2 separate regions of the Homo sapiens genome follow, and region 2 is linked to region 1. The links come from fine-mapping of genetic effects on gene expression. Tissue or cell type: spinal cord. Region 1 holds a variant in brackets; the other region holds the start of a gene. All regions are shown on one strand. Distances are between the middles of the regions.

Evidence for each region. PIP is the estimated chance that this variant, and not a neighbour inherited with it, causes the effect.
Region 2: C4orf33 starts here. The variant in region 1 is fine-mapped to the expression of C4orf33 in spinal cord (GTEx, PIP above 0.99). The same link has a PIP of 0.9 or more in anterior cingulate cortex, cerebral cortex, prefrontal cortex, putamen, sun-exposed skin and testis.

The regions. Positions count from the first base shown.
Region 1 is chr4:128,812,922-128,815,607 of GRCh38, reverse strand. All of the region lies in intron 1 of JADE1 (jade family PHD finger 1), which reads right to left. Among named protein-coding and RNA genes, the nearest start is that of JADE1, 4.6 kb to the right of the region's middle. RefSeq lists enhancers at 1,489-2,070, 2,071-2,652. The variant G/C (reference allele first, on the strand shown) is at 1,124.
Region 2 is chr4:129,094,923-129,097,608 of GRCh38, reverse strand. C4orf33 (chromosome 4 open reading frame 33) reads right to left here and starts at 1,457. Exons shown (of 6, transcript NM_001099783.2): 1 at 1,400-1,457.

The sequences.
Region 1 (2,686 bases):
TCAGTACTGAAACACAAACATCTGATAAATCTTTTTCCAACAAGTCTGTGGAAAGTAACATCAAGCAAGCAGATGATCTCCAAATTTAAGATTTCCAAATTACAATAAATACCATTTGGATTTCCTGCTTTTTTAAAATCCAGGCAACTTTATTTCCAAAGGCTTGCCTCCTCAGTGTCAGATATTCTGTCAAAAAGTTACTTAAGATTGCCGGGCACGGTGGCTCACGCCTGTAACCCCAGAACTTTGGGAGGCTGAGGCGGGCGGATCACGAGGTCAGGAGATCGAGACCATCCTGGCTAACACGGTGAAACCCCGTCTTAATAAAAATACAAAAAAATTAGCTGGGCATGGTGGCGGGTGCCTGTAGTCCCAGCTACTCTGGAGGCTGAGGCAGGAGAATGGCGTGAACCCGCGAGGCGGAGCTTACAGGGAGGCGGAGCTTACAGGGAGGCGGAGCTTACAGGGAGGCGGAGCTTACAGGGAGCCGAGATCGCACCCCTGCACTCCAGCCTGGGTGACAGAGCAAGCCTCCGTCTCAAAAAAAAAAAAAAAAAGTTACTTAAGATTAAAATCGACTTAAGGGAAACAACCAAATGCAATAAATGGTCCTTTATTAGGCAGTGGTTTAGACAAAGCTTCTCTATTACAGTCTGGGGCTAAATGGGGAAATCTGGACATGTTACAGTAATAGATTATATTAAAACTAACCAAGCTAGCTGACAGAAAAAAAAAAGGTCCTCAGAGCTGGGTGCGGTGGCTCACGCCTGTAATCCCAGCACTTTGGGAGGCCGAGGCAGGTGGATCACCTGAGGTCAGGAGTTCAAGACCAGCCTGACAAACATGGTGAAAACCCGTCTCTACTAAAAATACAAAAAATTAGCTGGGCGTGGTGGCGGGAGCCTGTAATCCCAGCTACTCAGGAGGCTGAGGCAGGAGAATCGCTTGAACCTGGGAGGCATAGGTTGCAGTGAGATCCCACCATTGCACTCCAGCCTGGGCAACATGAGCAAAACTTCATCTCAAAAAAAAAAAAAAAAGAAAAAATCCTTACAGATGGTATATTCATGTATCTCATTTTTATTAAAACACACATGCACATGCATAGAAAATTATCTGAAAA[G/C]TAATACAGTAGTCATCTATGGATGGTAGCAATTTGTTTTTATATTTGTTTCCTTGTATTTTCTAATTTTCAAAAACGTACATGTAACACTACTTGTGTAATAACTTTTTAACAGCTAAAGTCAAAAATTAATATCGGTCACGTGCCTACTATACGTAAGACGCAATGGAAATCTGCTTTTACTCTCACCTAGTCCTCCAAGTTTGTTTTTTAGGTCATCTTTCTTCTCCAACCCCCTAGGCTAAGCAACAAAACACATTTCCTCAAACTCCAATAGGTTTTCTCCCTCTAGTTTCACCCAGACACACATACTTTTCATTGCTGTCCCTGTATAGCTACTCTTTCAACCTGGATAACTAATATAAGCACAGCACTGGTTTACAGGCAGAAAACCAGTCAAGTGAAGCGGGGAGAACTAAGAAGGTGGGTTTTTTTTTTTTCTTTTAAATGAACACATATCTACCTTTGTTAAAGCTAAAATATATGTGCAGCCAACCCAACTTTTACTAGTAAGCAGTCTGTACTCTTAAAGGTGGAATCAAGTTCAAGTTCTACCTTACTTTCAGACACTCCCATTATCTCTGCTAAATAGGGACCAAAGGAAATAGCAGGAAACCTAACACTTAAACAGCTTAAAATTATATTTATTCTACACATTAAAATGACAATGCCAAGTAAAAGACACTTATAGAAGTATCCAAACTTTGAAGAAGACAGCAAAATACCAAGCAGAAAGTCATCTGATTTACAAGTGACCGTAAGCAGGCTGGGCGTGGTGGCTCACGCCTGTAATCCCAGCACTTTGAGAGGCCGGGGCGGGCGGATCACGAGGTCAGGAGTTCGAGACCAGCCTGGCTAATATGGTGAAACCCCGTCTCTACTAAAAATACAAAAAAAAATTAGCCAGCCGTGGTGGCACGCGCCTGTAGTCCCAGCTACTCAGGGGGCTGAGGCAGGAGAATCGCTTGAACCCAGGAGGCGGAGGTTGCAGTGAGCTAAGATCATGCCACTGCACTCCAGCCTGGGTGACAGAGCGAAAGACTCTGTCTCAAGGAACAAAAAAAAAAAAAAAAAAAAGTGACCGTAAGTAAATGAGACTAAGATCTTTGGGATAAAAGGACAATAAAAATTCTGGGTTGCATGTACTTGCTAAGAGTGTTACTCACAAAACATCCCATTTAACTCCCCCCACGTATGTTGCCCACCTACAACAAATTATTACATCAAAAGTGTTGACTCAATGCAAGTATGGACATATTGAATGCTTCCTTTCTCCACCTTTCTCCACCTGTGATTAAATCTTGATCAGTTGTGATATGATCAAAATGCAACTTACTATAAAATCTGTAACCACTGGGGAGTCACTACCTAAATCAGCTTTCAGGGAAATAATTTCCCTCTATCTTAAAACTAGTTCATTAGCTTTGAAAGGTATTAGCCTTGAGCTACAAGTAGCAAGAGAGCTAGCCTTCATGGCGGGTATTATAAAAAGGAAAAATAGTTCACCTAATAAAAAACCTTTGGGAAAGAACCCCCTAAGCATTCCCATTAATGGAAACCTCA
Region 2 (2,686 bases), 280 kb before region 1:
GTTGGAAGCAACTTAAATACCCATCAGTAGAGGACTGGTAAAAAAAATTATGCTATACCATACAATGAAACACTGTATAACTGCTAAAATGAATGAGGCAGCTCTGAATTAACATCTATGCTAAAATATGTTGTGAAGTGAAAAAAAGCAAGGTGCATTTATTTAATAAAAAGGAAGCTTATTTGCATATATGCTTGTGAGGCATACACTATCTCAGGAAACATCCAAGAAACGAGTGGTAACAGTGGTTGCTTCCCTGAAGGGAATTATCTGCCTGCAGATATGGGAAGGAGGAAGGCTTCCTTTCAACTTCATCACTTTTTAAAAACCTATCTGCATTTTACACTATGACAGACATGCATTACTATTTTAAGGTAACTGAACAGTTTAAAATTATTTTTTGGCCGGGCGCGGTGGCTCACACCTGTAATCCCAGCACTTTGGGAGGCCAAGGCAGGCGGATCACAAGGTCAGGAGATCGAGACCATCCTGGCGAACATGGTGAAACCCCGTCTCTACTAAAAATACAAAAATTAGCTGGGCGTGGTGGCACGCGCCTGTAGTTCCAGCTACTCGGGAGGTTGAGGCAGAAGAATCGCTTGAACCCGGAGGCGGAGGTTGCAGTGAGCAGAGATCGCTCCACTGCACTCCAGCCTGGCAACAGAGCAAGACTCCGTCTCAAAAAAATATATATATTTTAAGTCTAATTTAAGGCCGGTTCTCTTAAAAAGAGTATGGTGGCTGCCTCTTCTCCCCTTTATATTATATATGCTGAACGTTTCCGAAAAGTCATAATGCATATTATCAAGATGATTACTGTCCTGCAATGCAATTTTAAGTTTGGCTGTTTAGACTTTCTTAATACAATATTTATTGTTACTCTGTATGTTTCTACTTTTAACCTCTATTCTTCAAATTGCTCTTAAAACAAGTTAAAAAAATAAATTTTCAATTGTTCTGATTGCTTTATCTTTACCTGGAAAGACCTCTAAAAGGAAACGAAGGAAGAGAAAGGAGACCGAACACTGGAGCATTAAGAACCCAGGAAAAGAAAAAATGTCCGCAAAGTTTAAAAGAAATAAGTTATGGTAAAGGTGTTTTCTCAACCAAATGATCTGCAAGGAAAATTTCCAAATTCCTCTGCTCAACAAAAATTTCTTTAGTTTTTCTACAATAATGATTTCTTTTCAGTTTCCATACCTCCCCGAGGCCCCGCCCATTTATCAGGGAAACGGAGAAATGAGGAAGTCAGCCTGAAAGGGGGAGTACGCTCACTTAGCAGGAGACAGCTGAAAAGTAAAATACTTTTCAGTATTTTCCAGAGATCAAGCGAAAAACAAGACCTGGCGACGACGAAAGGAATGTCAGAGAGAAGAGGGAACAACTAGAGAACACAGACCACGAAGCTTTTCTCAAACACTGGCTTCTTCTTTTCAGCCGAGGTCACAGGAGAGGGCTCGGCTTTAGGCTCCACCCAGCTGCCTACACGTTCTGGGGGAGGGGCTTAGAACACTGAAGCTAAGACGCTTGATTTTTCTAGGAAAGAAAGATGTTGAAGGGCCACACATGAACAACTGAAGACTTCTAATCGTTCCACTAAAGTATGAGTGGTTTCCTAGAAGAAGGAAGGGTGATTCAGAAATATAAATACTGTGCAATAATTTGAAAATCAACTGTAAATCATTAAGATTACAATATAACATGTACAGAAATATTTCATTTAATACAACTAAAGGCTAACTGGCCATATAAGCAAAAACTATAAATTATATTATACCAGCTATAAACTATATTATACTATATTCCTGGGGAGGCATGTTCATAGCAGTTAACAATTGTGAAATTAGAACCATACTGCCTGGGTTCAAATCTCAACTCAGGCACTTGCCAGCTGTGTGATCTGTTCTGATCCTTGCTTAAACTTCTAACTTTGTATTCTTCCTGGTACTTTGCACATAGTACTGGGTGCTCAATGTCAATTGATCAACCAAATGAATGTTAGTGAAATGTCACTAATTTTCAATCTATACAACTTTAGGGGTTTTCTTTATTGCAGAAAAGTCATATAAAAACATTAAATGGTGGCTTGACAAGAGTTACACACAAACTACATACATTTCTGCTTGTCATTCCTTGTATTCAATTTATACTAATAGATACTTTTCATGAACATCCACTGAATTCTTTCATTCCTTCCATCAGATATTTAATCAACTCTGTGTTCCAGGTATTATGATGGAGCCTGGAGACAAACTACAAAACATGACAGATAATGCAGGAAGGAGCATGAAGTAAGTACTAAGGTGGCACCTACCTTGGGAGAAGTGGATAAAGAACTCAGGAGATGTGAAAAGGAGGAACATGAGAGGGGATCCTTTAAGGATAAGTGAAATCATCACAATTTTGTTTCCTAATGATGAAACTTATGTTGAAAATACTCCATTAAAATTCAACTACTAAAATCTTGTAACCACAAACACAAACGCAAAAACAAAAAACTATCATGATCATAATTATGATCATGTAAGCTAAAAAATTCGAGTGCAGACATAAAAGTTTTCACCTGAGATATTCACTTTATGTAAATACCACTCATCAGTTATAGCCAGAAGGTATTTGCTTCCATCCAGTTTGGGTGTAAGCGTAGAGTTAAGTCTATAATTATTTATTTGATGCCAAGTAGAAA